Regions from separate parts of the Homo sapiens genome. Here region 1 is linked to region 2. The links come from fine-mapping of genetic effects on gene expression. A gene starts in region 2. The other region holds a variant in brackets. All regions are shown on one strand. Distances are from middle to middle. Region 1 holds the start of GPBAR1 (G protein-coupled bile acid receptor 1). Region 2 holds the start of ARPC2 (actin related protein 2/3 complex subunit 2).

What was found. PIP is the estimated chance that this variant, and not a neighbour inherited with it, causes the effect.
Region 1: its variant is fine-mapped to the expression of ARPC2 in whole blood (TOPMed, PIP above 0.99).

The regions. Positions count from the first base shown.
Region 1 is chr2:218,253,593-218,269,312 of GRCh38, forward strand. GPBAR1 (G protein-coupled bile acid receptor 1) reads left to right here and starts at 7,423. Exons shown (of 2, transcript NM_170699.3): 1 at 7,423-7,624; 2 at 9,088-10,269. The coding sequence starts at 9,133. The coding sequence ends at 10,125. It overlaps AAMP (angio associated migratory cell protein), which reads right to left. Exons shown (of 11, transcript NM_001087.5): 3 at 13,902-14,021; 4 at 13,255-13,394; 5 at 12,851-12,995; 6 at 12,472-12,555; 7 at 12,239-12,354; 8 at 11,987-12,090; 9 at 11,779-11,869; 10 at 11,428-11,582; 11 at 10,537-11,016. The coding sequence ends at 10,941. ARPC2 (actin related protein 2/3 complex subunit 2) reads left to right here. Exons shown (of 11, transcript NM_152862.3): 11 at 299-756. The coding sequence ends at 323. RefSeq lists enhancers at 7,870-8,675, 10,599-10,778, 14,838-15,720. The variant T/C (reference allele first, on the strand shown) is at 12,487.
Region 2 is chr2:218,208,256-218,223,975 of GRCh38, forward strand. It overlaps ARPC2 (actin related protein 2/3 complex subunit 2), which reads left to right and starts at 8,934. Exons shown (of 11, transcript NM_152862.3): 1 at 8,934-8,999; 2 at 9,208-9,289. The coding sequence starts at 9,216. LOC101928487 (a long non-coding RNA gene) reads right to left here and starts at 8,931. Exons shown (of 2, transcript XR_923908.2): 1 at 8,773-8,931; 2 at 7,846-8,596. RefSeq lists an enhancer at 8,943-9,546 and silencers at 9,068-9,117, 14,565-14,614.

The DNA of each region.
Region 1 (15,720 bases), 45 kb after region 2:
CAGAAATTGTGAACAAGTGATTCTTCTATCTAACTTGGTACGTTGAATGTCCTTGTGGGCTTAACACTGATATTCCCGGGCATCCAAAGTATCCAATAGGAAGGAAGAGCTCGTGAAACCATTCTGTGAAAGCCAGATTTTAGCCGATGTCCTGTGGTTCCAGTGCCTCTGCTTAAGGAATCTAGCCCTTTCCACCTCTCATTTGGTGTTTCTTTGGGATCCCATCTAGTCTAGGAGTGTGGGGTGGGAGGAAAGGGCAGCCAGAAACTGACCTTCGCACTTATCTCTCCTTTTGAAGGGGGAAGACGTTTTCATCCCGCTAATCTTGGGAATAAGAGGAGGAAGCGGCTGGCAACTGAAGGCTGGAACACTTGCTACTGGATAATCGTAGCTTTTAATGTTGCGCCTCTTCAGGTTCTTAAGGGATTCTCCGTTTTGGTTCCATTTTGTACACGTTTGGAAAATAATCTGCAGAAACGAGCTGTGCTTGCAAAGACTTCATAGTTCCCAAGAATTAAAAAAAAAAAAAAAAGAATTCCACTTGATCAACTTAATTCCTTTTCTTTATCTTCCCTCCCTCACTTCCCTTTTCTCCCACCCTCTTTTCCAAGCTGTTTCGCTTTGCAATATATTACTGGTAATGAGTTGCAGGATAATGCAGTCATAACTTGTTTTCTCCTAAGTATTTGAGTTCAAAACTCCTGTATCTAAAGAAATACGGTTGGGGTCATTAATAAAGAAAATCTTTCTATCTTACATGAGAATTTGCTGGGTTTCTGGACTGCGAGTCCAAAGTGAGAAGAGAAGGAAGGAAGAAGGATAGACCTATACTACCCTTGAACCTGCAAACCTAAGCTGGGAAGCCCTAGTTTCAGGAGCCCATCAGGTTTAGATCCTCACCTTCCCTAGAGGAGAGAATGGCTGGCCAGTGAGCTATATTTAAACTTTTTTTTTTTCCCCCTGAGAGACAGGGTCATTACCTCCTGGGCTCGGGTGATCATCCCACCTCAGCCTCCCAAATAGCTGGGATTACAGGCGCATACCACTATGCCTGGCTAATTTTTTTTATTTTTAGTAGAGATGAGGTTTCGCCATCTTGCCCAGGCTGGTCTCAAACTCCTGGACTCAGGCAGTTTGCTTGCTTCAGCCTCTCAAAGTGCTGGGATTATAGGCATGAGCTATGGAACCCAGCGAGCTATTAATACAAACTTACATGCTTCCTTATAAAGCTTGGTCCCTGAGACTCTGTGGCTGCTCCTGAAGCTCCCTGGTCAATGACAGAGAAATTAAAGGGTTTTCTGGTTTATCTTTTTATTGTGAATAATGTGTGGAATTTCCCAAAATGTGTTCCTTAGTGTGTGGTCCTGCAGGACATTGATGAGTATTCAGGTGTGGGTCTGATGCAGACTAATTGGCCACAGTTTGTCTTTCTCACATGGCAGCCCAAAAGACTGCTCTCAGGGAGAGCAGTTGTCAAAAACAGTACAGAGCCTAGTAGAGCAGCTGTCCCCCAGCAGGACTCTGGTCCCTGAAATGAAATTGCTTCAGAAAGTTTGCTTGGTGTAAGGAATTAAGAGGAGAATTTTAGGGGCACCTGCAACGGTCTGATGGTCATTCTAATGGTTTCTGCCTTCCATCTATGGCAGTGTTTCATACTGGCTTGGGACCCATTAATTGTGGTGTGACTATATCACAACAAGCATTTTTGTTTTCTAAACTTTTGATTTTGAGATAACTGTAGATTTAAATACGGTTGTAAGAAACAATACAGAGAGATCCTGTATACCTTCCACTTGGTTCCCCCACCATGCTAACATCTTGTATAATTGTTGTATAACATCACAGCCAAGAAAAAATCATTAGTATAGTCCACACACCTTCAGATTTGGCCGGATTTACGTGCACTGTATGAGATGTACATCTGTGCATTTTTATCATACGTGTAGCTTTGTGTGACGCCAGCATTTTTAAGCAATTGAATAGTATCAGAGTGCATTACATCTGTTAAGGGTAAGTGTTGATGTGGAAACGTATTTTAGTTACATATGCACATCATGACTGGATTGTAGAAATGTCTCTTGACTGTGAGTCACAGTGGAGAATTTTGAAAACCACAGGTCGTTCAGTCATCAGACTTGATTTTATTTCACTAAAATGGGCTGCTAGAGAGCTCAAGGTACTCTGATTTCTAATTGGCTGCTCAGGGTGCCCCTGACCACTTACTTCTGGTACTTGGAAAACCTAGATTAATTGGATATATTGACAGCAACATATGCATTCTCTACCCCATGAGTTATTTAAGGGGTTTTCAAGTGTAATTTTGACTAGAAGCAGTTTTTGCTCTTTTTTTGTTTTAATTTTAGTTTTTAGAGACAGGGTCTCACTGTGTTGCCGAGGCTGTACTCAAGCTCCTGACCTCCGGAGTAGCTGGAACTACAGGCACCTGCCACTATGTCCAGCTGAGTTTTTGCTTTCTTCCTTAGTAGAACATAACTAATGTTGGAGCTCACTGTACTCTTTTGCCAGTAGTAGGAATCCGATTTCTGGTAAGTACTGTAGGTGACAGAACCAAGGTTGCTTAGAAGATATGGAGTTAGGAGAAAAATGAAAAGGCATAAATATTTTCTACAGCAGTAAATCCTAAGGAAGTAACTAGTTCCAAGACACTGTCAACATTAAAAATCCATAGTGCAGGCTGAGCACAGTGGCTCACACCTGTAATCGTAGCACTTTGTGAGGATGAGGAAGGAGGATTGCTTGATCCCGGGAGTTTGAGACCAGCCTGGGTAACGGTGAGACTCCTTCTCCATCTCTATAAAAATAAATCTGGCTGGGCACGGTGGCTCACGCCTGTAATCCCAGCACTTTGGGAGGCCAATGCGGGTGGATCACCTGAGGTCAGGAGTTTGAGACCAGCCTGGCCAACATGGTGAAACCCCATCTCTACTAAAAAAAAATTAGCTGGGCATGGTGGCGGGTGCCTGTAATCCCAGCTACTCGGGAGGCGGAGGCAGGAGAATCACTTGAACCCAGGAGGCGGAGGTTGCAGTGAGCCAAGATACGCCATTGCACTCCAGCCTGGACAACAAGAGCGAAACTCTGTCTCAAAAATAAATAAATGTGTAGTGCAGCCTGGACAACATGGCAAGACCCTGCCTCTACAAAAAATAAAAATCGGCTGGATGTGGTGGTGCATGCCTGTGGTCCCAGCTACTCAAGAGGCTGAGGCAGGAGGATTGCTTGAGCCCTGAAGGTCAAGGCTGCAATGAGCTGTGTCGTGCCACTCCACTCCAGCCTGGGCAACAGAGTGAGACCCTGTCCCAGAAAAAAGAAAAATCCATACTGGTGTAAACCCGTATCCAGATTGACTCTTCTCTTAACAAGGACACACTTGGCGTTAGTATGGATCTAGCCTCAAAGACCCTCGTCACAGATGAAGCAGCCCATCGTGACCAGTCGAGGCCTTAGGACCGCAGGAGGAATGTCTCAGGATGAGGGTCAAGCACACTGAGGGTGTGGGCTGGAAAAAAGGGATCTAGTTGTTTCTTCCTAGTCTCAGGAAGCCAGTGCCCCAAGGGTTCACACCTGGTAAGTGTAGGCGTCCTTGGATATGGGCTGTAGAGGAACAGTTTGAATCCAGGTGCCGCCATCTAATAGCTATGTGACAGCAAATTTCTTAATCTGAGCCCTGGTAGCCTCATTTAAATTGGACATAATGCCACCTACCTGAGGATTTGTAAAAGGAAAAGAGAATAAATGTCTGTTACATCATAAGCATTATGATGCCTGTAATTATAATGTCAATGAATCTTAGTTCCCTTTATACACTCAAGGGGATCAGAAGTGACAGGCTGTTGCCCCAGCAAAGTCCCACAGAAGCCAACCCTTATTCGGTGCTTGGGGTTTCCCAGGCTTTCCCCAAGGTAGTTGGTATTTTGGTATTTTCCCCTGCTTAAATGGCCCTTACTGCCGAGGCCAGGCAGGTAAGAATCTCCATGTCTGGAAAAAGTGGAACCTGGGGCAAACTGCAAGCTAAGGATAAGGAGCTTGGCAGGAAAGACGCTAAGACTCTAACAGGAAGTGGAAGGGTGGACTTGGAGGGGGAATTGAAATCAAGAAAAGGAAATAGCCCTAGCTGCTGCCTCAGCCTCCTTGAGGGGAGCTGATACTTGGAGTTGGTTGCCGTTAGGTTACCCTCATTTGGAGTAGTACTGATGAGTGCTCGACCGAAACCTGGGTCTACTCTGGTGGCGATTTTGAGTTCAAGCAGTGCTGCCCCCTACTGGGGGTTGCTAAAAGCACTGCCATTTCAGTGGGCGGGGGGTGTTGGTTCTTTTTGGTTTTTGGTTGGTTGGTTGGTTGGTTGGTTGGTTGGTTGGTTTTGAGACAGAGTCTCACTCTTCGCCCAGGCTGGAGTGCAGTGGTGCGATCTTGGCTCACTGCAACCTCCGCTTCCCGGGTTCAAGCAATTCTCCTGCCTCAGCCTCCGGAGTACCTGGGACCACAGGCCTGCACCGCCACACCCAGCTAATTTTGTATTTTTAGTAGAGGCAGGGTTTTTCCATATTGGCCAGGCTGGTCTCGAACTCCTGACAGGTGATCCACCCACCTTGGCCTCCCAAAGTGCTGGGAAAACAGGCGTGAGCCACTGTGCCCAGCCCACCCTAACCTTTTTTTTTTTTTTTTTTAACAGATGAGCGAATTAAAAGGTTAGGCGATTTTTTTTTTTTATTATTGGAGACTTGCTCTGTTGTGCAGTGGCGCAATCTCGGCTCACTGCAACCTCCCCCTCCTGGATTCAAGCGATTCTCCTGCCTCAGCCTCCTGAGCAGCTAGGATTACAGGTGCTCACCACCACACCTGGCTAATTTTTGTATTTTTAGTAGAGATGGGGTTTCACCATGTTGGCCAGACTGCTCTCAAACTCCTGACTTCAGGTGATCTGTCCACCTCGGCCTCCCAAAGTGCTGGGATTACAAGGATGAACCACCGCGCCTGGCTCTGATTTTTTTTAATCATCTTTATTTTGAGGCAGGGTCTCACTCTGTCGCCCAGGCTGCAGTGCAGTGGCGCCATGAAGGCTCACGGCAGCCTCAACCTCCTGGACTCGAGCAATCTTCACACCTCAGCCTCCTGAGTAGCTGGAACCACACAACATGTACCACTGTGCCCAGCTAATCTTTATTTTTTGTAGAGACGGAGTCTCACCACGTTGCCCAGGCCTCAGCCTCTTAAAGTGCTAGGATTACAGGCATTGAGTGTGAAGTGTTGAACAGCGGCTCAGGGAGGCCAACCAGGGTCCAGCAAACCCCGTCCCTGCTGCCTCCATTGGTCCAGAGCTGGTACCCGCAGCCAGCATGACACTCACCCAGTCCCAGACATTGTGGGTCAACAGAGAGAAATTCAGATAGCTAAGAGAATGGAAGCGGACAAAGGAGGCACAGGAGGATTCCATGCCAGAGTCTGAATTGGTCACCCCCATTCAGGCTCTGCCTGAGGAAAGGAGAATGGGGTCCGGGCACAGTCAGCTGGATGGAGCGTCTGAAGACGGCTTGCACCAGAGCCCTCCGTGGCTGAAGGGAGAAGCTAGGGGGTGAGTCAGCCCCAGGGCTTGATGGAACAGACAGGAACTAGATGATCTAGGAAGGGAGAAATGAGGCTGAGCAGGAGACAGCCCAGGCTCCCTGGCTGCCACTACCTAATCTGTCCCCCTTCACACACATCCCACACACAGTGTTTAGACAGAGCAGCAGAGAAGAAACAGACATCCTGGATCCCACAGGGAGCAGGCTGGGGCTGGGAACAGGAGGTCTGTTTATTCCTGGAAGTCACATATCAGAAGGGTCCCACACCCACTTCTGTCCAGGCCCCAGGCTGAACTCTCCCAGAGCCTGTGACTTCTGCCCGACCAGATCCCGTGGTTCTGAGGACCGGCCCTGGAACCCTGCGTCCTTCCGACCCACCAGCTCCCTCGAGGATGGACTTGAGGCTGGATGCTTTCCTCTTCCCACTTTTTGTCCCAACAGAAGTCCCTGATCTCCAGGATCCCTGACTGGCTGTGCAGAGCTGGCACAGCCACACTCCACGGGCTTCCAGCCCTTCAGGCCCAGCTCTCCCGGAGAGCACCAGAGTCCCTTTGCTCCATTTACTTGCGCTCTTCAGCCAGCAAGTGTTTCCTAATGTCTCACCCCCAGTCCCAGCTTTCCTGCTGCAATTTCCGCCTGTTCCCTCCCATTTCAGGCCTTAAGGGAGTGTGGCTGGGCTTCTCTCCTCCCCCTCACTCCAAAGCCGCACTTGATACAAGGTGGAAATCAAAGCACCACTTCTGGCTTCCCAGCCTTGAACTTGCCCTTCCCTCTCAATGTATCTGGTTTCCTCAGCTTCCCTGTGCAGCAAGAGTGTCACTCCCCTCTTGCTTTTCCCAAGCTCCCCATGCGCCCCTCTCAGCAGATCTGTCTTAGAGGGGCCAGGTGCAGAGAAAGGCAGAAATCCTAATAATGTTCCCAGCGATCGCTGCCTGTCGCGGAGTGCTGAAGGGCCAAGTGTTGATCTGAGTCCTCATCACACGGGACTTCATTTAGTCTCACGATAGGTGAGTACAACTATGGGCCCCATTTGACAGATGAGGAAACTAAGGCAAGGGAACTTTAGTCATTTGCCCAAGTTCACTGGCTTTTTTAAAAAAGGATCCAGACAGCTCTGATTCCAGCGCCAGCTCATGCCTCTTCATCATGGGGGAGGAAAGAGAGGGAGCCATTTGTTGGGGCAAACCCCCACCCATCAAGGGCCATGCACTGGGGTATATGCCGCCATATGTGTTATCCTGTGATATTCCCCACCACGACCTTAATTAGAGGTGGTTTTTCTTGTTCCCATTTTAACACAGGCAAAAACCGAGGCCCAGTAGTACCTTACCCATGGTCACATCCCCAGAGCCATTTGTCCCTCATAGTTCAGAACTTGACTCAGAAAGCAGTTGAGAAAAGTGTGGAATGACCCCAGATTCAGGAAGGCAAGTCTGGCCTTAGAAACTGAAAGGCCCATCAGGTGATGGGATGGGGGAGTGAAGATCCTCAGGCCCCAAACACCTGCCACTGCCACCATCACACACGGAAGTGTGGAGGGAGCCTGGTGTGCTGTCAGCTGGCTGGCCAGTCCAGGGGCTTAAATGTAAATGCATCAGCTGAGGCGGGAAGTCGGGAGGGGTAAGTCAATCATTATTATTCATTAACTGGAATGCATTTCTCAGATTACTCCGAGCTGGAGTAGGGAAACTGCCACCTAGGTGGCAGGGGGAGAGGGGAACTGGGTGGGAGGGGGAGGCAGGCCTCCCAGTTGCTGCAGTTTGGAATATGTCAGGTCCCACCCTCCCAGAGGCGGGGCCAGGGCTGAGTCCTGCCAGCCTCATTTCTCTATCCCTCTGAGAACCCAGACGGGCAGAGCCTGGGTAGGAGAGCCTGGCCCCGCTGTCCCCACTGGGTGGAGACACCATGCACTTGGTCCACTTGTGCTCTTCAGCCAGGACACCAGACATGGTCCAAACCGCTGCAGGGCTGGCTGCAGCAACTCCCTGACACTCAGGAAGGCCCAGGCTGGGCAGGCAATACCTGCTCCCAACAGCCATGTGAGTAGCTACTCCCCCAAACCCCCAAACCCCAGATCCTGGAGAGGCTACTACACCCAGCCCAAGCCACCAGACCCTCGGGGGTGTGCAGGTGGTACAGCCTGCACCCTGCTGGGAAATCACCCCTGGGGGCTGCTCCCTGCCTTTGTCGCTGTTCTAGTGGAGGTGGGTTGGGGGGAATCATTCCGATTAGGGCTGGGAGCTCCAGCTCAGGCCAGGTTTGGGGTAATGGACCCTGAGTCTCACGGGACTTAAGAGAGTTGATGATGCCCTGGGAAAGGGAACAGAAACTGCAAGGCCTCTAGAGAGGAAAAGACATCCTGGGTGGAGGGCACTGGAAGAGATTGAGAAAGAGAAAACATGCTTAGGGGAGGGGAAAGGGGGCATAAGGCCTTGGAGGCCCAGGCTCAGGGTGCTGGGGGAACCTGGGAAGGAAGGGGAGCATCTTCCTTCCTCTCAGCTCAGGGCAGCCATGGGGCCCTGATCCCCTGTCCTGGAGGAGGGGAGAGGTATGAATCCTTTCCTTATTGACTTGGATCCTAGCAACAGCAGCTGCTCCCCTGTTGACAGAAGCAGGAGTTCCCACAGGACCCAGGACCCCTCCCCCTGTCCCCAGGATGTGGCAGCAGAGCCATGACACTGGAGGACTGAGACCAGGGAATGACGGGAAGGACAGGGACAGATGAGAGCCACAGAGAAGCCAGACTCTGCCCAGACTCCTCTTCCCTCTCCTCTGGGCTCAGCCTCAGGCCTGGGGGTGTGGGGGAGTCCCTCTCCTTGCTGCTGGCATCTCCACGTTCACTGCCACACGTGCCCTCCAGCTGCTTCTCTCCTCCCTCCAGCTCCCAGGAAGGACCCTGTTGCTAGTGTGGAGCAAAGACGAGTCAAGTTTATGGGCTGGAAGTCCTACCCGGAGGCTGCTCACTGAGCTGTGATGGCTACAAGGACAGATGGGGGGAAGGGTGCAGGGTGCCCGAGACCTGGCCCGCTGGAGCCTGTCACCTAATGGCTGGCTGGAAGACCACTACACACCAGCCAGCCCTGGTCCATTCTCTCATTTAGAGGCCTCCCCGGTGGAGGCAGGGATACACAAAATGCTTTGGGGCTGGATGGGCCCGCCTTTCAGTCTAAACAAGAGACCTCAACACAGCTGCCCAGAAAAGGCAGATACCAGAAATGGATAAAGCTGGCTGGGTGGGGACTGTCCGAAGGGCAGCCAGCAGTGAGCTCCGGCTGGTTGCTACCACACAGGACATATGTGTTGCCAGACCTGAATTTTCAATAGAAACCAAAGATAGTTTTTTATATAAATGTTTAATTGGCAATTAATTGAAAAATTCTGTGTATCAGCGAACATGATACAGCCCACAGCCTGCGGGTCTGCGCCCCTGGATTAACATGCTGCCCTGCCAGGAGGACACGACCTGCAGCCCCATCCTAACTCTGGCCACCCCATCCTGCAGGCATGCCGGCTGCCGCTCCAGGACTCCCCTGTCCCCAGGACCAAGATGACGCCCAACAGCACTGGCGAGGTGCCCAGCCCCATTCCCAAGGGGGCTTTGGGGCTCTCCCTGGCCCTGGCAAGCCTCATCATCACCGCGAACCTGCTCCTAGCCCTGGGCATCGCCTGGGACCGCCGCCTGCGCAGCCCACCTGCTGGCTGCTTCTTCCTGAGCCTACTGCTGGCTGGGCTGCTCACGGGTCTGGCATTGCCCACATTGCCAGGGCTGTGGAACCAGAGTCGCCGGGGTTACTGGTCCTGCCTCCTCGTCTACTTGGCTCCCAACTTCTCCTTCCTCTCCCTGCTTGCCAACCTCTTGCTGGTGCACGGGGAGCGCTACATGGCAGTCCTGAGGCCACTCCAGCCCCCTGGGAGCATTCGGCTGGCCCTGCTCCTCACCTGGGCTGGTCCCCTGCTCTTTGCCAGTCTGCCCGCTCTGGGGTGGAACCACTGGACCCCTGGTGCCAACTGCAGCTCCCAGGCTATCTTCCCAGCCCCCTACCTGTACCTCGAAGTCTATGGGCTCCTGCTGCCCGCCGTGGGTGCTGCTGCCTTCCTCTCTGTCCGCGTGCTGGCCACTGCCCACCGCCAGCTGCAGGACATCTGCCGGCTGGAGCGGGCAGTGTGCCGCGATGAGCCCTCCGCCCTGGCCCGGGCCCTTACCTGGAGGCAGGCAAGGGCACAGGCTGGAGCCATGCTGCTCTTCGGGCTGTGCTGGGGGCCCTACGTGGCCACACTGCTCCTCTCAGTCCTGGCCTATGAGCAGCGCCCGCCACTGGGGCCTGGGACACTGTTGTCCCTCCTCTCCCTAGGAAGTGCCAGTGCAGCGGCAGTGCCCGTAGCCATGGGGCTGGGCGATCAGCGCTACACAGCCCCCTGGAGGGCAGCCGCCCAAAGGTGCCTGCAGGGGCTGTGGGGAAGAGCCTCCCGGGACAGTCCCGGCCCCAGCATTGCCTACCACCCAAGCAGCCAAAGCAGTGTCGACCTGGACTTGAACTAAAGGAAGGGCCTCTGCTGACTCCTACCAGAGCATCCGTCCAGCTCAGCCATCCAGCCTGTCTCTACCGGGCCCCACTTCTCTGGATCAGAGACCCTGCCTCTGTTTGACCCCGCACTGACTGAATAAAGCTCCTCTGGCCGTTTATGATTATCTCATTCCATATCTCAGGGCGAGGCAGGAGGAAATGGCTCAACACACCAACAATAGAAAGAACCTACAGACATACGCGTGGATTAAGGCAGAGTCCGACTCCAGGCAGGCAAGAAGTGTCGTGCGCACAGACCACCCCTGGAGATGGGGAGCTGGCACATCTCAACATCCAGCCGATTCTGCGGGACAGCCTTGCCCTGACGGGGCCCTCGCTAGCTCCTCCTAGGGTCCAGCCATCACAAAATCCACACAGACTCTGTCTCTGGGAAGTATATTTTATTTACATTTTTAAAATCTTTAACTAGTATCTCTTCCTCCTTTCCACCCCCAGAGACTTGGGAAGGGAAAGAACGGGAACCTCAAACACCTACTCCCCACATACAAATACACACCCCATGGCTCACACCAGCAAATGAAAGTGAAAGAGAAACAGGTCCACCCCTCCCTCTGAAGGGCCCACCAGGTCTGGACAAGGGTGGGAGGGCCCTGGGCTGGGTCTCTAAAGAGAAGAAAAGGAGAGGGGAGCAAGTCAGTTGAAGAGGCTGGAAAGTCATCCAGGGCCCCACCCTCCTCTTCCCTCTGTGCCCTACTGCCTCTGCTGGCAGACAGGGGCAGGGGTCCCTTCGTCCCCTCAACACCAGACACACAGGCAGGGGCTGCAGCCATTAACGGTCAGGCCTTTGGACACAAAATACTTTCGCTTTGTGGTCTCCTGACGTGGTCACCACCAGGGAGGCATCTCTGTAAACAGAAAGCATGTGATTGCAGAGACTGGGGGACCCAAGCCCACCACCTAGGGGCCCTAGGGTGGGCTCCTCCAGCACACCCTCAGTTCTAGGGCCCTAGTGCCTAGCACTGGGCCGACATCTCTGCAGCCAGCATGGAGGGGATTAGAGGAAGCCCCCAGCACGGGAGAAGCAGAGCTGACTCCGATGGGGAAAATCAGTCTCAGCCTCTCCCTCATGACTGAGACGTGGGGCCCCGGAGGGTCACTGTCAGCCACTGGAATGGGGGCTGGGCTGTGAACCCTCAGGCTTCTCTGCATTCCTGCCTTAGGAATCCCTTCCCACACCCCAAGGATCCTGTGTCCCCTACATACTACTGCCACCTTCCAAATACACAAAGATCCCAGCCCTTGGCCAATTCACTTACTTGCTGAGGGCAAAGTCCAGGATCTCAGCCGTGTGGCCCCGGTAGTCAGTAAGCAGGCGGCCGGTCCGGGCGTCCCAGAGGCGCACGATGCCATCCAGGCTGCAGGTATATACCACGGCAGTGCCTGCCTCCCACAGCAGCTGCACGATGCCCGACTGCCCCGAGGAATGACAGAGGCAGGGCGGAGGTTGGCAGGAGAGCTGAGAGCCATCTGCTCCCAATTCTCAAAGAGGGACAGCCACACACAAGGGCCAGGCAGGAGCCAGATCTGGGGTAGATGCTCCTGGAGGCCTGGGCTTCCCCACCACTATGGACACAGCCCACAGGGACCCCAGCTCCAGCTGCCCATACCTGGTGCTGACACTGATGCCTAAGAGTCTGCGTAGCCAGGTCATAGATGGCCAAGGTCCCATCCAGGTAGCCAACAGCTGCCAGGGGCATCCTGGCCAGAGGAGCGTACCATGAAGACTCATGAGGGCCTGGACTCACACGCCCTGCCGTCCTCCCGGGCCCCCAGCCCAGGCCCCTCCCACAAACCCCTTTCCCCATCCTCACTCACACACTGCAGAAGCCCAAGGACTCCACCGAGTTGGACTCACTCTCCTCCCCTTCTCCCAGGCTGGGCTGGGAGGCCACAGTCTCAGGTCTAAAAACACCCACCACCTGAAAGCCAGAGAGGATCAGAGGAGGACACGGAATCCGGGTGCTTGATGGAGAGAAAGACGGTGGGGAGAGGAGACAGTGAAGACCCAGGAAGGAAGGAGAGGAGTCGGGAAAGCGGAGGCCCCAGCCGGGCTCCAGGTCCACTCACCTTGCCGGTGGTGGCACTGACCAGCTTGGCCTGGCAGTCCACAGAGCCAGTTAGGATCAAGCTGCCATCCTGGTTGGCAGCAACACAGGTGAGTGGGCCCTGGTGACCCTCAGTCCCTAGCATAGAGCAGGGAGGCAGCTCAGGCTTCGTCCTACCTCCCCTCTGAGTCCTGCCCCAGGTTCTCAGCCCCTCCCTACAAAGGCCCAGGCTAACACTTCCCCCACCTCTGATACCTTTCAGTACATGGA[T/C]AGGGCTTCCCTGCTTCAGGTCCCAAATCCTGATGGTCCCATCTTCATAGCCTACCACAGCTCTCTTCCCTGAAGAGAGGCACAGATGAAGAGAGGGCAGAGGGCACGCTCACATACACTAAGCAAGGGAATGGGGAGAGGGAGAGGAAAGAAGAGTGGAAGGGCCCAGACACTGCCCCAGGAATCACAGGTGAGTTCAGAGCAGGAAGGAGGCGCTGTGAACTTTGGGGCCCAGGAGGTCAGCACTGCAAACAGCAGGCCTCAGATTTTGCCGGCTGTGACCCAGAAGGCTGCTCTGGGAGGTGTATATCCCGGGATTCGGCCTCTGCACCCAGGAAAGGTCACTCAAGGGAGGTGCTCTCACCATCAGGGAGGACTCGGCCACAGGTGGCTGGGCAGTTGGGACCCTGGAAGGTCTTGCAGTCACCATTCGGGACTTTCCACATCCAGGTGTTGCCGTCAGCTGTGCCCGCCAACAGGACAGGTGCCCGAGGATGCCACTCCATCCACTGGACAGGGAGGAAGGGGCAGCAGGGAGGCCCGTCACCCCATCCCACCTAGAAGCCTGCCCCATGAGCTCCACCCAAGGTTTCCTGCCTCTGGGGTTCCGCGGGGACTTTCCAGGTAGCAGGTAGATATTCTTCCTGTGCCTTGGGGCGCATTGGCTCAGAGCTGGCTTGGCGCAATAAAGGCAGAACTGGCCTCCCAAGCTTGCACCCCCAACAACCCAAGGCCCCACAGAGCTGACTCCCGCTCTGATGATCTTACCTCCAGGTCTCCCGCTTCAAAGGACCAGACCTCCTCCTTAGTGTCCACCTGCCACACTTTCAAGAGGCCACTCATGTCCCCTGTGGCCACTAGAGTGGAGTCATGGCTGAAACCAGCACAAGTCACAGAGTCTTTATGGCCTTCAAAGAAAAGTGGGCAGAAAACAGAGGAAAAAAATAGGGTACCTGGTGCTGGGGGCATGTGATTCTGGTATCTGGCCCACTGAAAGGACCAGCTAGGAAAAAAAGAGGGGCGGGACTGAGCAGAACAGGTGCTGGAACTCACCACCACTCTAGGAACCAATACTCCCATGTCTGCTGGGAGACACTGCTGGCCCTCACTCAACCAGACCAAGTCCCAGCCTCCTATGCCTTCCCCCTTCTGTCCACTCTACACCTCTGCCCGCCTGCTCCTATACCAATGTGGCCTTCTCTGGCCTTTCCTGGATTCCCTTGGCCAATTAGTGCCTCCTGCCTCTGTGCCCAAAACACACTAGTATTCGCCCCGTGTCCCTGGGGCCCAGCACAGAGCTGGCACAAAAGAGATGTCACTAAGTGGCTGTTGGATGCACAACCTCTGCAGGTCAGCCTCCTAAGATCTCCCAAAAGAATATGACCTCTCCCAGGCCTCTACCCCAGCCCCCTCACCTGCACACTCAAAGAGCAGCTCCCCATCGCTGAGCCGCCATACGAAGGCTTTGTCATCTTCACCCCCGGTCACTGCCAAGGTATTGGTCTTGGGGTCCAGGCTCACACAAAACACAGATGCTGTCCCAAGAGATATTCCATGGGTAAGGGGACAGAGCTCCCACCTAGGGCTCTGTCCTTCACAATCTTCAGGAAACCCACCCCCTTTCACCCAAAGCGTGTCTTTCCTCCTGGAAAACACAGGTACATCCAAGTTCTTCTAAGTTTCAAGAATTGGGTTGTTAGATCCTTCCCATATTTGCCAAGCTCCCTATTTGCCAGAGTAGATCCCCTCACTGTGTGACTCCCGTCACCACCCAACACCAATGCCATGGACAAGAGGTGGGGACAGGTGCAGGGCTTACAGTTGTCAGCATGGGATGCCACCGGGGTTGGGTACAGAGCGAGGAGAGCATCACGTTAAGGGTTTTTTGTTTTTTGTTTTTTGTTTTTTGAGACAGAGTCTTGCTCTGTCGCCCAGGCTGGAGTGCAGTGGCACAATCTCAGCTCACTGCAACCTCCACCTCCCAGGTTCAAGCAATTCTCCTGCCTCAGCCCCCTGAGTAGCTGGGATTACAGGCGCCCGCCACCACAACCAGCTAATTTTTGTATTTTTAGTAGAGATGGGGTTTCATCATGTTGGTCAGGCTGGTCTCGAACTCCTAACCTTCTGATCCACCCGCCTCGGCCTCCCAAAGTGCTGGGATTACAGGCATGAGCCACCGTGCCTGGCAACAGTTTCTTACTAAGAACTAGCACTTGAGAAAGTTATATAAAATATGCTCAAAAAGATATAATTATCTCTCATTTTATTTTATTTTTTTGAGATGGAATCTTGCTCTGTCGCCCAGGCCGAAGCGCAGTGGCACAATCTCAGCTCAATGCAACCTCTGCCTCCCAGGTTCAAGTGATTCTCCTTCCTCAGCCTCCGGAGTAGCTGGGATTACAGGCACATGCCACCACACCCAGCTAATTTTTTTTTTATTTTTAGTAGAGATGAGGTTTCACCATGTCGGCCAGGCTGGTCTTGAACTCCCGACCTCAGGTGATCCACCCGCCTTGGCCTTCCAAAGTGCTGTGATTACAGGCATGAGCCACCGCACCTGGCCAATTATCTCTAATTTTATACTCACTACTTTTATTAACTTTTATCAAAGATAACTTTTTTTTTTTTTTTTTTTTTGGAGACAGACTCTCATTCTGTTGCCCAGGCTGGAGTGCAATGGCGCAGTCTTGGTCCACTGCAACCTCCGCCTCCCGGGTTCAAGCAATTCTCCTGCCTCAACCTCCCGAGGAGCTGGGACTACAGGCGCCCGCTACCACGCCCAGCTAATTTTTGTATTTTTAGTAGAGACGGGGTTTCACCATATTGGCCAGGCTGGTCTGGAACTCCCGACCTTGTGATCCGCCTGCCTGGGCCTCCTAAAGTGCTGGGATTACAGGCGTGAGCCACCATGCCCAGCCAAATTTTTGTATTTTTAGTAGAGACTGGGTTTTGCCATGTTGGCCAGGCTGGTCTCGAACTCCTGACCTCAAGTGATCCACCTGCCTCAGCCTCCTAAAGTGCTGGGATTTCAGGAGTGAGCCACCACGCCCGGCCAAAGATAACTTTTTAAAAGAAAACTAAGAGGTTAATCAAGGTTAACTGGCAAAGTAGAGGGTGTCTCGACTGATGCCAGAAGCCAAGCAATCATCCATTCTGCCACACTTTCCCACCTGTGGGCTCCTCCAGCGCAAGGCCAGCATCTTGCCCATCTCTGTGTCCCCCATAACGTTCTGT
Region 2 (15,720 bases):
AGGAGGCCGAGGCGGGCAGATCACTTGAGGTTGTGGTGACTCACGCCTATAATCCCAGCACTTTAGGAGGCCAAGACGGGCAGATCACTTGAGGTCAGGAGTTTGAGACCAGCCTGGCCAACATGGTGAAACCCCATTTCTACTAAAAAAAAAAAAAAAAAAATAGCTGGACATGGTAGCATGTGCCTGTAGTCCGAGCTACACATGAGGCTGAGACAGGAGACTCGCTTGAACCCGGGAGGCGGAGGTTGCAGTGAGCCAAGATCGTACCACTGCACTTCAGCCTGGGCGACAGAGCAAGATTCTGTCTCAAAAAAAAAAAAAAATTTATTTTGCCAATCTCTGTCTTTTAATTGTTTAATCCATTTACATTTTAAATGATTATCGATAATAAAGAACTTACCTCTACTATCATGCTATTTATTTTCTTTTTCTTTTTTTTTTTTTACTTTTAATTTAGGTTCAGGGTACATGTGCGGGTAATAAGCATAATACTCAATAGGTAGTTTTTTTGATCCTCACCCTCCTCCCACCCTTCACCCTCAAGTAGGCCCCGGTGTCTCTTGTTCCCTTCTTTGTGTCCATATATACTCAATGTTTACCTCCCACTTACAAGTAAGAATATGTGGTATTTGGCTGTCTTTTTTTTTTTTTTTTTGAGATGGATTTTCCCTCTCTCACCCAGGCTGGAGTTCAGTGTCCCAATCTTGGCCCACTGCAACCTCCACCTCTCAGGTTCAAGTAATTCTCCTGTCTCAGCCTCAAGAGTAGCTGCGATTACAGGCACAAGACACCAGAGCTGGCTAATTTTTGTATTTTTCGTAGAGACGGGGTTTCATCATGTTGAACAGGCTAGTCTCGAACTCCTGACCTCAGGTGATCCACCCGCCTCAGCCTCCCAAAGTGCTGGAATTAGAGGTGTGAGCCACTATGCCTGGCTCCTTCAAGTTTTGAAAGAACATTTTACAGGCTATAATATTCCTGGTTGACAGGTTTTTTTATTTCACCACTTTAAAGATATCATCATTCCACTGCCTTCATGGTTTCTGATGAAAAATTAGCTGTTGTTCTTATGCAGGAGACTTGTAAATGAGTCACTTCTCTCTTTCACTTTAAAGATTTTCTCTTTATTTCTGGCTTTCAACAGTTTTGACTATAATATGTCTCAGTGTGAATCTCTGAGTTTATCCTGCTTTAAGTTTATCAAGCTTATTAGATGTATTGATTCACATCTTTCACCACATCTGGGAACTTTATGGCCATTACTTGTTTAAATATTTTTCCTTCCCCTTTCTCTCTCTCTCCTCTTTCTGTAACTCCCATAACGTGTGTTTTGATATGCTTAATTTGTGTCCCACATGTCCAATAAGCTCTGTTCAATTGTTTTATTTTTGTTCCTCAAACTGGGTAATTTTAACTGCCCTATCTTCAAGTTCACTGATTCTTTCTTCTGCCTGCTCAAATGTGCTGTTGACCCCCTCTAGTAATTTCTGCACTTCAGCTATTGTACTTCTCAGCTCCAAAATTTTTATTTGGTTCCTTTTTATTATTTCTATCTCTTTATGATATTCTATGCTTGTATATACACCATGCTCCCGATTTTCCTTAGCTATTCTTCATGGTTTCCATGAGCTCTTTTCTTTTTTCCTTCAGCATATTTAAGACAGTTAAGTCTTTTTATATAAATCCAACATCTGGGCTCTTCACGGATAGTTTCTATCAATTTTTTTCTATATTCCTTTTACTATGAATGAACCATACTTTCATTTTATGTTGCATGCTTTATAATTTTCTGATGAGAACTGGAAATTTTGAATATTAAAATTGTAACTCTTGAAATTAGATTTTCTCTTCTGCCCCAGTTTCAGGGATTACTGTTGCCTGAAGAAAGCTACAGTCATCTGTTTATTTAGTGCCTTTTCCTAACTCTGTTGCAAAGACTATATTCCTTGGCATGTGTAGTCACTAAAGACTCATAATTTCTGCAGTCAGCCAGTGACCTAACAGAGATTTCCTTAAATGCCTGGGTCCAAAAAAGAAAAGAAAAGGCTGTTTTGTCTCTTTAAATCCCTTCCATCACTCAGGAGGCTGAGGCAGGAGGATTGCTTGAGCCCAGGAGTTTGAGTCTAGCCTGAGCAACATAGCAAGACTTCATCTTTTTTTTTTTCTTTTTGAGATAAGAGTCTCGCTCTGTCACCCAGGCTGGAGCACAGTGGCATGATCTTGGCTCACTGCACCCTCCACCTTCCAGGTTCAAGCAATTCCCCTAGCCTCAGCCTCCCGAGTAGCTGGGATTACAGGCACATAACCAAGCCTGGCTAATTTTTTTCATTTTTAGTAGAGACAGGGTTTCACCATGTTGACCAGGCTGGTCTCGAACCCCTGACATCAAGCGATCTGCCCGCCTCAGCCTCCCAAAGTGCTGGGATTATAGGTGTAAGCCACCGTGCCCGGCCAAGACCTCATCTTTAACAAAAAAAAAGAAAGAAAAAAGAAAAGAAAAAAAAAGAGCTTTTTAAATCCCCTCCACCAATAAGAAAACCATTTCAGCTGAGCCCATGGAGGCTGAAACAATAACCAACCTTAGCAGTGGCCCCTTAGCAAACTAAGGCATATCAAAATACACAAGCCTGATTTTTGGAGGACAAGGTCCCTATAGCCCACCCTCACATCGCCAAGCACATCAGGGATACAGACTGCCATCTCCACAACTGGATGCTGCTGGGAAGAATTCACCAAAATTCACCAGCCTCTTTCTTAATCAAGTACTCCCTTCAATGCTGCAAGTGCTTCACTAGAGTCTGGAGCTCCAAATAGTTGGTTCTGACAGTTCTTGCCAGCTCAATAGTGGTTTCAGTGAAGGGATCAATTCTACTCTGCTATCTTCCATGACATCACTCTTCCCCCACCCCACCACATTAGTCTTTATCCCATAGGAAACAGAAGGCACCCTCAAGATAGGATAATTTGAGAAGAATGTATTTAAGAAGGATTATTTACAAAAGTGTGGATGTAGGGGAGCCAGAAGAGGGAATGCATTAACCCAGGACTAATAGCAGCCAAGCTGATACTATCCCTAAGCCCAAAGGGTTGAGGAGAGGGATCAGGACCAGGAAGGAAGGAAAGAGTTGTGCTGAGGTGGCCACCTTGAAAGGGGCAGTGACATTTGGTTGATGAACACAGCCAGCCTGAGGCGACCTCAAAAGATGAAGGAAGCCCAAGATTAAATAGCCTGATATTACTCTTTTGCCTCCTCCTCCTACTACTACTACTTCTGTTCCCCTTCCTCCTGCTGGGGCTCCTTATTGGCCAACCAAACACCCAGGCATAAGGGAGTCCAGTTGATATAGGGGTGAAAAAGGATGAAGAGTGGATCTGGAGGACTAACTGGAGAATGGCCAGACAGCCATTCCAACCCCAAAATTACCTCTAGCCTCTATCTTCAAGATTGAATGCAGCAAATTTCTGGCTATTTAAGAACAGCCACTTTCCAAACACAACTGGAGGATTCTTCCCTGGAGAGAAGACCTCCCAATATTGACATTCGACATCTGGCACATCATCTGTGCAACTTACGGTCAACCTAGTGCTTCTCAAAACGTAATGTGCACTTGAATCACCTGGTGATATTGTTAAAATGCAGATTCTAAATCTGTAGGTTACAGTGGAACCTGGGGTTCTCCATTTCCAATGAGCTCCCAGATGATGTCAATGCTGCTGGTCCAAGGAGCTAGTCAACTCATCTTGCCCAAACACTTAGAGTCTCCACTCAGCTTTTTAGTGTCTCATCCTTAAATATGAATAGATTGCTAAAGTAGACAGAAGTTTGAGATGGCCATTAGCATGAGAGTAACCAAAATAAATTAGCATTAAAAAGGACCCAAGGAAACAGAGACAAAGTGGAGAGAAGGAAAACTAAAAACAAATTCACTAATATCCTCACAGACAGGAAAACTTATGCCTGTCCATAAAACCAGGATAGAATATTATGGAAAAGAGACAGTCAGCAGGAAAAAAAGGTCTTGGGAATTAAAAATAAGAAAACTGAGGCCGGGCGCGGTGGCTCATGCCTGTAATCCCAGCACTCTGGGAGGCCGAGGAGGGCGGATCACCTGAGGTCAGGAGTTCGAGACCAGCCTCAACATGGAGAAACCCCATCTCTACTAAAAATACAAAAATTAGCCGGGCATGGTGATGCATGCCTATAATCCCAGCTATTCGGGAGGCTGAGGCAGGAGAATTGCTTGAACCTGGGAGGCGGAGGTTGCGGTGAGCCGAGATCGCGCCATTGCACTCCAGCCTGGGCAACAGGAGCGAAACTCCATCTCAAAAAAAAAAAAAAAGAAAGAAAGAAAAAAAAGAAAACTGAAAGTTCAGCCTTGGGCAACATAGGAAGACCTCATCTCTACAAAAAATTAGCCAGATGTGGTGGCACAAGCCTGTGGTCCCAGCTACTTGGGAGGCTGAGGTGGGAGGTTCGCTTGAGCCCAGGAGGTTGAGGCTGCAGTGAGCTGAGGTTGCCCACTGCACTCTAGCCTGGGCAACAGAGCGATACCCTGTGTCAAAAACAAAACAAAACAAAACAAAAAGTTAAAATGGCTGAAGATAATGCAAGAAGATATTCCACAAAAATAGAAAAACAAAAAACAAACAATGGGTTGGTTTAGAGTTCAGTTTTGCAAGATGAAAAGAAGGTTCTTTTTTTGTGTTTTTTCTTTAAGACTCTGTCGTAAAGGCTAGAGTGCAGTGTCATGATCCTAGCTCACTGCAGCCTAAAACTCCTGGGCTCAAGCAATCTTCCCTGCTTATCCTCCCAAAGTACTGGGATTACAGGCATGAGCCACCATGCTCAGCTCTATGAATTTCTATTTTGAATCAGTGCTCAGTACAACAAATTAAGAAAGTGGTACAATAAAGCAAATCATTCTAAAATTTCTAACCAACAAGTTAAAGAGAGAATCCTAAGGCTTCCACAGATGGGGGAGATGTAACAGACAAAAGGATCAGAAACATGAATAGGAATTATACTTTTTTAATAGCAACCCTAGAAGGTGTAAGAAAATGTAGTATACCATCATTAAAAAGTCAGGAAACAACAGGTGCTAGAGAGGACGTGGAGAAATAGGAACACTTTTACGCTGTTGGTGGGACTATAAACTAGTCCAACCATTGTGGAAGTCAGTGTGGCGATTCCTCAGGGATCTAGAACTAGAAATACCACTTGACCCAGCCATCCCATTACTGGGTATATACCCAAAGGACTATAAATCATGCTGCTATAAAGACACATGCACACATGTTTATCGCGGCACTATTCACAATAGCAAAGACTTGGAACCAACCCAAATGTCCAACAATGATAGACTGGATTAAGAAAATGTGGCACATATATACCATGGAATACTATGCAGCCATAAAAAATGATGAGTTCGTGTCCTTTGTAGGGACATGGATGAAATTGGAAATCATCATTCTCAGTAAACTATCACAAGGACAAAAGAACAAACACTGCATGTTCTCACTCATAGATGGGAATTGAACAGTGAGAACACATGGACACAGGAAGGGGAACATCACACTCTGGGGACTGTTGTGGGGTGGGGGGAGGGGGGAGGGATAGCATTAGGAGATATACCTAATGCTAAATGACGAGTTAATGGGTGCAGCACACCAGCATGGCATATGTATACATATGTAACTAACCTGCACATTGTGCACATGTACCCTAAATCTTAAAGTATAATAATAATAAAAAAATAAATAAATAAAAAAGAAAATGTAGTATACCTTCAAAAAAAAAGGGAAAATTATTTTCAAACTTGAATATCTAGCCCAACAACACATCAAGTGTTAAATAGAAGTAACATATTTTCAAATATGCAAAGATTCTAACAACATATATCCCCCATCTCCCTTTCTTAGGAAGTTATTAGAGGAGATGCTTTAGCAAAACAAGGAAGTAAACCAAGAGGAAGACATGGGATCCAGGAAATGGGCAAAACCACCCCAGAACAACAATGAAGGAAAATTCCAGAATGACAACTGTACAGCAAGTCTAGCGAGCAGCCAGTCCAGATTGAAATAAGAGGAAGGAAGGCTCTGGGACAAAAACTCCAAAGAAAAAGTGGAACTTATATATTGAGTATATGGAAAACATTATTGCTAGACTTTTTGATAGTCTTAGAGCATTTGAGGGGAAAAACCAACTGTAAATACTGTTTACAGAAAATCAGACAGATGAGAGAAAAAAGGCAATAATTAACCCTAAGAAAAATGAAGGGCCATGTAAACTAGAAGTCATGATTATAGTGCATTTCTTGGCTCATCAGTAAACAATATTTGCATACATAATAATTTTAATACAGCTAGGTGCAGATTATTGGTTTTACCAAAAGTTATTACGCAGCTATATATGGTGGGAAGCAGAAGTGATAGAGTCAAGTTCTTATCTACCGTGTCAGGAAGTCAACACATAATGCTAAAAATTCACAAACCAAAAAATAATGGTATAAACATTTACTTAGAAACATGAAGGTAGGCCGGGCACGGTGACTCACACTTGTAATCCTAGCACTTTAGGAGGCTAAGGCAGGCGGATCGCTTGAGTTCAGGGGTTCGAGGCCAGCCGAAGCAACACGGTGAAACCCTGTCTCTACTAAAAATACAAAAATTAGCTGGACATATTGGTGGCCACCTGTAGTCCCAGCTAGTTGGGGTCTGAGGCCGGAGGATTGCTTGGGCCCAGGGAAATCGGGGCTTCAGTGAGCCAAGAGTGTGCCACTGCACACCAGCCTAAGTAACAAAGTGAAACCCTATCAGAAAGAAAGAAAGAAAGAAAAAGACAGAGAGAGAAAGAAAGAAAGAAAGAAAGAAAGAAAGAAAGAAAGAAAGAAAGAAAGGGATTATGAAGGTAAATATCAGGATGAATTTGTGAAAGAGTTGAGCATATTGCCTCCAAAGAGTAGGACAGGGAACTGCTTTTTTCATTACAAGCCTTTTAGTATTATAAGCATACATATTTTAAACAATTTATAAACATTATTTTAGTTCAATAGTCATTAATGTTACAAAGCTAGCTTATCGGTCGGGCATGGTGGCTCACGCCTGTAATCCCAGCACTTTAGGAGGCTAAGGCAGGTGGATCACTTGAACCCAGGAGTTTGAGACCAGCGTGCCCAATACGGCCAAACCCCGTCTCTACAAAATATACAGAAATTAGCCCAGCTTGGTGGTGCATGTCTATAGTCCCAGCTATTTGGCAGGCCGAGGCAGGAGGATCACCTGAGCTCGGGAGGCGGGCAGTGAGCAGAGATAGCAACGTCACTCCAGCTTGGGTGACAAGAGTGAGACACCATCTCAAATTAAAAAAAAAAAAAAAAAAAGGCCGGGCATGGTGGCTCACGCCTGTAATCCCAGCACTTTGGGAGGTCGAGGCAGGAGGATCATGATGTCAGGAGTTCGAGACCAGCCTGACCAACATAGTGAAACCCCGTCTCTACTAAAAATACAAAACATTAAAAGGGCATGGTGGCAGGCACCTTTAATCCCAGCTATTTGGGAGGCTGAGGCAGGAGAATCGCTTGAACCGGGGAGGCAGAGGTTGCAGTGAGCCGAGATCATGCCATTGCACTCCAGCCTGGGCAAGAGTGCAAGACTCTGTCTCAAAAAAAAAAAAATTTAAGTTAGCGTATAATTTTAGGGGATCAGCAATATCCTGAAGCTTATCCATAGCCCGTTAAGTAATGTTTCAAAGGGCTATCTGTGCCTTAATGATAGGAGCTAGTTTCTTGTTCATTTTTTTATCCCCATCCCCAAACACATAGCAGAAAATAAATTATTTCCTTGTATGTAGAACGGACTCAGCTAAGTTTATTATATTCTCCCCGGAGGAGGGAAAACACAAAACAAGGCACAAAGGCAGAAGGTGCAGATGTAGCACAACGATGAGTTAAGATTCCGCACGCAGGTAACAAGGAGGGTATGGTATATCTCTGCCAGAGGTACTGGAAGGTTTCAAAGGCAGAAAAAAATGTGTTCCGGACACCTGGACGCAGAATTGGAGGCATGACAGGAACACAGGGAGGCCCATCTAAGTTGCCTATTCACCCAGGTGACCTCTCTTTCATTTCTTTAATTGTCCTTTTAACAATATGGGGAATTTCACCCAAGGAAAGGGTCCTCTTCTCGCCCCAGCAGGCAAGGGGTGTTCCTCCAGCGCAAGTTCCGGCCCCAGCTGCCCCCACGTCCCACAGGTCTCCTGCCTTTTGGCACGCACACTCCTGACCACTCGCTGCTTCCGCATCCCTACTCTGATCCTCTCCCCATGCATCTCTGCCTCCTTAGACAACTGAGAATTTTATTGTCTGTTTCCTTTGCCAGACTGTAAGTTCCACGAGGGCAGGGCCTCGTCCATTTCATTTACCACTACATCCCCAGTATAGAGCAAGAGCCCATGAAAATGTTTGTTGGAGAAATGAATGCATGATGGTGTCGCTGGACAGCTATACCTGGAAAGAAAAAGAGGCACCCCCATCAAACAAGCTGGGAGCTAAGAAGCCCGCTGGGAGACGACAAGGGCGAGCTTCTTGCGAGGTTTCTGAAATGACAAGACCGGAAGAATGGAGTTGGATCTCTGGGACAAGCGGGAGAGAGAAGCTGAACAGTCAGGCAAGCCTCGGGGAATGACAGCTCCGCGGGGGACGCACTGGTAGGCGGTAGACGTAAGCGGGGTCGGTGGGAAAGTAGACGGTGGGGCGGCGGCATCACACATACGCAAGCGCAGCCTCCGTTTCCTCCGGCGCGCCTGCGCTCGCGTTCACGAGTGGTTGAAGCGGAAATGGCGCCGCGGGGCCGCGCGTCCAGGCGGCGAGCGGAAGTGGGTGTGAGAGCGGAAGTGGCCGGCTAGAGCCGGGGGCTGGGCGGGGACCGGGCTTGTCGGTGAAGCGGCAGTGGCGGCGGCGGCGGCGGCTCGGCAGGCGGGTTCAGGCTTCGGGGGCCAGGTCGGTTGGGTGGGTGGGTGTCTCCACAGTCTGCGTGCGTGGGCCAGCGCGTTCGTCTTACCCTTCCCTCCACCCCGGCCCCTCTCCCCTTCTCCCCTAACCTCCTACCCCACCCAGCCCCACTCAGGGGGCAGCAGGGCCGCTCCCTCCGTCCTTGCCTCCCTTACCCACCCTCACCGGCCCTTGTTTCTCCTTCCCCTGGGGGCAGCCGCCGCCATGATCCTGCTGGAGGTGAACAACCGCATCATCGAGGAGACGCTCGCGCTCAAGTTCGAGAACGCGGCCGCCGGGTGAGCGCGCGCCCGGGGCCGGGGGTGGCGGGGGAAGCAGAGTTGACCCCAGCTAATCCCCAATGTTGTCCAGTCCCCCAGACCTGGAGGAGAGAAATGGGGTGCCTGGCAGGGTGTAGGGGCTGCCCCAGCGGGGTAGACGTGGGAGGCGATTGGGCGCGGCCGGGCGAGGGGCAGAGATGCGTGGGGAGAGGCTCAGAGGAGGGATGCGGAAGCAGCGAGTGGTGAGGGCTGTGCGTGCCAAAGGGCAGGAGACCTGTGGGACGTGGGGGACCCTGGAGCCGGAACTCGCTCCGGAGTAGCCCCCTGCCCTCTGGGGCGAGAAGGGGACCCCTTCCCTGCGTGAAATTCCCCGGCATTGTTCTGAACCCAGAGAGAGCCTGTTTGGAATTGGGTTGGAAGGAGTTTTCAGGAATTCCCAGGACTGGAGGAGGGAAGGAGATGCAGGCCCACATCGCCACCAGCATTCTCGTTCCCCACCCCCATCTCCTTTAAAAGGAGCAGAAGAGAAGACTAAAAGCCGACCCAGTCTTAGAGCCGGAAAAACGCGATCTCTGGTTTCCCTTCCCCGAACCCTTCTGTGAGAGACACTGGGCCATTTTGTTACATATTTTTAAAGCAAAGCCAATTGTCCCTCGCTCCACACCCCTTCCTTATCTCTCCTTTGAGGTTCTAATGCTCTCTCCTCACCCACTAGCCTTTATCTGGTTATCTTGTAAATTCTTACATCAAGACCCTAGGTCTGTGATTTCTTCTGTGGTAGCCCTGGCCCAGTTACACACTTCAAAGACTCCAGAATCTATAAAGTTCTTAGATAACCTGTCTTTACGATTGGACTTTTTAAAAGATGGGCTTAGGGCATCTTTCCAAGGCAGCCTCTCTGCCAAACACAAGAATCAGTAGAAGACAATCTGCTCCTCCAAAGCTGCTTTGCTTTTCTAGTATAATATTTAAAACATGAGCTAAGGATTTTGGGTTCTAATTTTTGGTGGCCTGTGGCCAGTCCCTTTGCCTCATTTCCCTATGTATGAGCATGGGGCTTCACATCTGGGTTTCACAGTTAATAAGTGCAGACCGTTTCTGGTGAACTGGGAACTAGTAATAGGAAAGTGCTTGCAGATCCACAGATGGGAGAAGATTGGTAGAGGGGAATTTTTAAGTGGTCATAATGTACTTGTGGCTTGGAGGCATTAGAAAGTATTAACTGCCATTTAAATTGAATATATAGTATGTCCTGTCTCCTTTATAAGGCCACAGATTTTATCTGTAAAACAAAGCACTACTTTCCTTGAAGTAATACGTGTAGTGAGCAGTACTGTTTCCTGCCAGGGGCTGCAGTTGGTTATATTTGAGGCTGACTTGCTTCTTTCTTGTCTTAGCCTCTCTTACCAGTTTCTTTGCATTTTAAATATTCAAATGAATCAGCCCAGAGTCTTATTTTGGGTGATTGCTGTATACTTTTTTCTGAGCAGTGTAACACATAGGAGGAAGTTGAATTAACTTCTGCATTTTCATAACTGATCTTAATGCATTCTCAGGTCCAGACTAGCAAAGAATGAGACCTGGGCGGTTATAAGCTGATCTACAAGATAAATGGCTGTGTATTTTCAAGTAGAGGCATGTCTTTTAACATAGGAGTACATTCTCATCTATTTGTGTATTAATGACTTGTGATTCCAAAATGTGGCCCATTATTCGGAACTTCAGTTCTTTCTTTTTCTTTTAGAAAATTATTCTTAAAAAGAGAAGCTAACCATTTCGGAGGGATTAAATAGGCCCTCAAGTCTGGAAGACATAAGTTAGAACTTCCAGGACTTTTTTTTTTTTTTCCGAGACAGAGTCTCTCACTGGCTGGAATGCAGTGGCGCGATCTCTGCTCACTGCAACCTCGCCCTCCCAGGCTCAAGTGAGTCTCATGTCTCGGCTTCCCAAGTAGCTGGGATTACAAGCACGTGCTACCACACCTGGCTAATATTTGTATTTTTAGTAGAGATGGGGTTTCACCATGTTGGCCAGGCTGGTCTCAAACTCCTGGCCTCAAGTGACCCGCCCGCCTCGGCCTCCCAAAGTGCTGGGATTACAGCACTGCTCCTTTCCTCAGGACATTTTTTACAAAGATATGCATTGTAGGGAAGCTGTATAGGGGGTGCACTGGTGTGTATGCTTGTGCACATGTGCGGGTGTATGTGTGTATAAATCTAGGCTTTTATTCTGGCCCATCTCCCCCTTTGAGATGTGGTTTTCAATAAGCAGGCTCAAAACATTCTGCTGAAAATTTGAAACTTTGAAAATCTTTAAAAAAAAAGAGACCATGATATTGTGCCTGGTAGGCAGGGCTCTCCTGGGATTACAGATGTATCACCCAGTAGAAGCCCGAATGAAGCAAATGTAAATTATCAGACATTCCAGTAAGGTAAGGCAAGGTGCATGCCTATTCCAGAACTTACAGCAGAGTTTGCCTAGTGTGGTTATCATAAACATGTATGGGATTCTACCAGTGCTCAGCCCAGGCAGCAACAGAAAAAAAGGGGCCTCTCTGAGAGCCTATTAGCCAAGTTAGGGAGGTGCTAAGGGGTGAAAGGTGTTGGGGTGGAGATCAGAGAAAGACATTAAAGGGAGTAGTTTGGAGGAGAAACCCTGGAGATTTGAAAGGCTTTGCTGGTGTGGGAACCTGCTAGGAGAGGTCAGCTCCACCCTACTTTTTGCACTTCTCAGAATAAACCGATGGGGGAAATTACAGTTCGGAGCAGCCTTTTCCAGAGTGCATCTTCCATCTCTGTGATGTCCAATAAGATAGCCATACAAAGTGGCTGGCTAAATTTAAGTAAAAATTAAGTTGAAATAAAATTGAGTTCCTCGGTCACACTAGCCACATTTCTGGTGCTCATTTGCCACATGTGGCTGGTAGCTGTTGTATTTAGCACAGACATGGAACATTTCCATTATTGCAAAGTTCTATTAGCACTGTTCCAGCTTCTGAAAATGAAAGCATGAGATGGTCTTAAAAATAGTTCTGTGGCATATACTTCAGAATATAGTTGCATTAATTTTCCATTTGAAGTTGATTTTTTTTTTTTTTAATGATTCCTCTCAGATCATCCTGCTGGATCTTCTCACCAGTGGCCTCCTACTAAAAGTATCAGCTTTCTTTTGGGTAAAGCAGTGTTGTCATCTAAACTGTTTAAGAATACATTTGATCATAACCTTTTAATTTGGAGGCAGTTTGACAAAGCCTAAGGTTCATTCCAAACAGATTGCTTTTTAATTTTTTCCTACACACTTCTGGGAAGTGGCTTATTGAAACAACTCATAGATTGTCACAAAATAATAATTATTGGTAAATTGTCTTCCCAGCAGCCCACAAACTAAGAGAATGTGACTGACTTAAAAGCTATGCCCAACACTGCAAATAACCTCATGCACAGGTCTGATCAACAGCATTGCCTTTTCATTTGGAAATTCTTACCCAGACCCTCAAAGCAAAAGTAATCAGACAAATTAATTTAATTCTTTCGTTAGTGTACACACCAAGAACCGTTTCATAACTGAGAAGCTAGGCCTGTCAACTTAGCTGGAGTCTGGAGTCCAAAATTGAGGAAATTCTGTCAGATGCAAATTGCTGTTGGATTTAAGTGTGTGCTGGCTCCGTGCCACAGCCAGTGTATATTGCGGGGAGCTGTGGTTCCATGGGGGGGAGTGAAACTCAGTAAGCAAGCAGTGCCAGTTGGGGTGGGCGAGGATGATGGGAAGAGAAATTTGAAAAAGGAATAAATTAAATCTTGCTGATACTCTGTTCTCATTCCCAAATATATTGCATATGTCCTCAGAGAGACAGGCTGTTTGGAGTGATTTGGAATTAGGACATTGTTTAAGCATTTAGAAGAAATGGAATGTTGTGTCCAACTCAGTAAGAAGACCTGGTTGGTCTTTTTACAGGTCACTGTAGTTAATTACACACTGCCACCTGTCCTGTGGCCTACTTGGGACCACTTTGGTCCTGAAGCCCCAGAGCTGTGCTGGACCAAACTGATAACTCCTTAAGAGCTGGGTCTATCACTTTAATCATCTTTGTTTCCCCAGCATCCTCATTGTGTATATAGTCAACTCAGTAAATTGGTTTATTGAAGAAATTAATGAAGCCAGATAGAATGATTCCTTGTTTCTTTAGGAGCTGACATTTTTGTGACATTGAGTAAATCAGCTTTTAGGTCTCTGTTCTCCATATTTTGATATATGGCTTAGTGGAGAATAGGACCACCTCTTACCTAATATGATCTATTTTTTTAGGCTTTGCTCAAAAAGAATGATGGGAGCTTTATAGAAGATTTAAAGGAGAATGCTCAGAAACCTTTATAGTGAGCAGAATTCAGTAATTCCTCTAATTCAGGACATAAGAAGGGATAAGTAGGAGAGAGACATAAATGCCCAAATGGGGAATTGGGGCCAGGCACCCTGGCTCACGCCTGTAATCCCAGCACTTTGGGAGGCCAAGGAGGGCGGATCACTTGAGGTCAGGAGTTTGAGACCAGCCTGGCCAACATGACAAAACATATGTCTACTAAAAATACAAAAATTAGCCAGGTGTGGTGGCGCACACCTGTAATCCCAGCTACTCAGGAAGCTGAGGCTGGAGAATCACTTGAACCCAGGAGGCGGAGGTTGCAGTGAGCAGAGGTGGCACCACTGCACTCCAGCCTGGGTGACAGAGCGAGACCCCATCTCAAGAAAAAAGAAAAAAATGGGGAATTGGATCCTAGGGTGCATTCAGGAGTAAAAACCCCAAAGTTGTTAATGAGAAAAGAAGATGAGATAATACAGTTGCCAGAAGCCCTTTCTGGATTGATTATTGACATTCTAGAAGCTTCCTTAGAGAAAAGATAGAAGAAAATTTTTTCTAAAGGGTTTTAAGAATAGCTCTTAAAACCTGTCTGAATGAATTGATTATGTTTTAGTGTCTTGGGTTGTCCAGGCAGTAACTCTGAGGACTTACCCAGCCGGCTTGTTCTAGGATTCCAGACATTACAGCAGTCTGACACTTATAGGAGTTCTGTTTTTCCTTGTACTGCTAACCAATTCCTGATTCAGGGAATTACCGCAATCCTAAAACCTCTCCCAACCACAGCTTCAGAGTCCGATCTCTGACTCCACCTAGGAGAAGAACTAATTTATTGATTACCTTCTATGAGCTAGGCACTGTGCTATATGCCTTAACATGGTTTCATTTCATTTCTGTGACAGATAGTGGATCTCATTTACAACTGAGAAAACCAGGGCTCTTGAGGATTGGGGGTGGGGGTAGATATTGAATAAGTAACTACTACATATTAAGTAAGCACCGTGCAGGCATCCTTCACTGTGATTCTTGACCTTGTTTATCGTATGGCACACAGAACATGATTGTATTTGTATGGCACATTTGGGTAAATGGTCTAGCCTCTCAGAGATCCTGCCACCTGCTGCCTGCCCTAAGGGATATGGGGATCATTACCTCAGCATATCTATAACTTAAAAGACACCGTTTGAGAAACTTTGCTGTACAGTAGTCCCCCCTTATCTGTGGTTTTGCTTTCTGCAGTTTCAGTTACCTGCAGTGAGCAGTGAACCATGGTCTGAAAATATTAAATGGAAAATCCCAGAAATAAACAATCCATTAATTTTAAATTGTGCACCATTCTGAGTAGCATAATGAAATCTTGCGCTGTCCCGCCCAGGACATGAATCATCTTTTTGTCTAGCATATCTACAGTGTGTACGCTACCCTCTGTTAGTCGCTTAATAGCTGTCTAGGTTATCAGATTGACTGTCACAGCATTGTAGTGCTTGTGTTCAAGTTACCCTTATTTTACTTAATAATGGCTCCAAAGTACAGGAGTAATGATGCTGGCAATTTGGATATGCCAAAGAGAACCCATGAAGTGATTCCTTTAAGTAAAAAAAGTGACCTTGGTGTTTCTTTGCTACAGTTCAGTGCTATCCACACTTTTATTTATCCACTGGGTGTCTTGGAACATATCCCCCACAGATAAGGGGAGACTGCTGTACTGCTGGACATATATCATCTCAGTCTTCACACCAACCTGGGAGGTAGATGTTTTGTCCCCATTTTGTAGAAGAGGAACCTGAGGCCCGGTGACATTTGAGGAGCATTGCCTGTGGTCACATAGCCAATAAATTCTGAATTCTAAATAACTTGCTTTTTCTCACCCCCAGCATCTGAAATTTTAGCAGCTGGTAGAACAGTAAATAATGTAACTATTAATTCTGGGGGCCTATTTAGTGGAACACTTTTCCTGGGCCAGTCTTCCTCCCGCTCCTTTGTAATTTTAAACCACAGAAGTAAAATAACAAACGCCAGGTCTTGGAATTGAGAAGCAATCTTGTGATGGTATACTTCACGCTCAGCAAACTCATCGTTAAGGCACTGAGTTCTC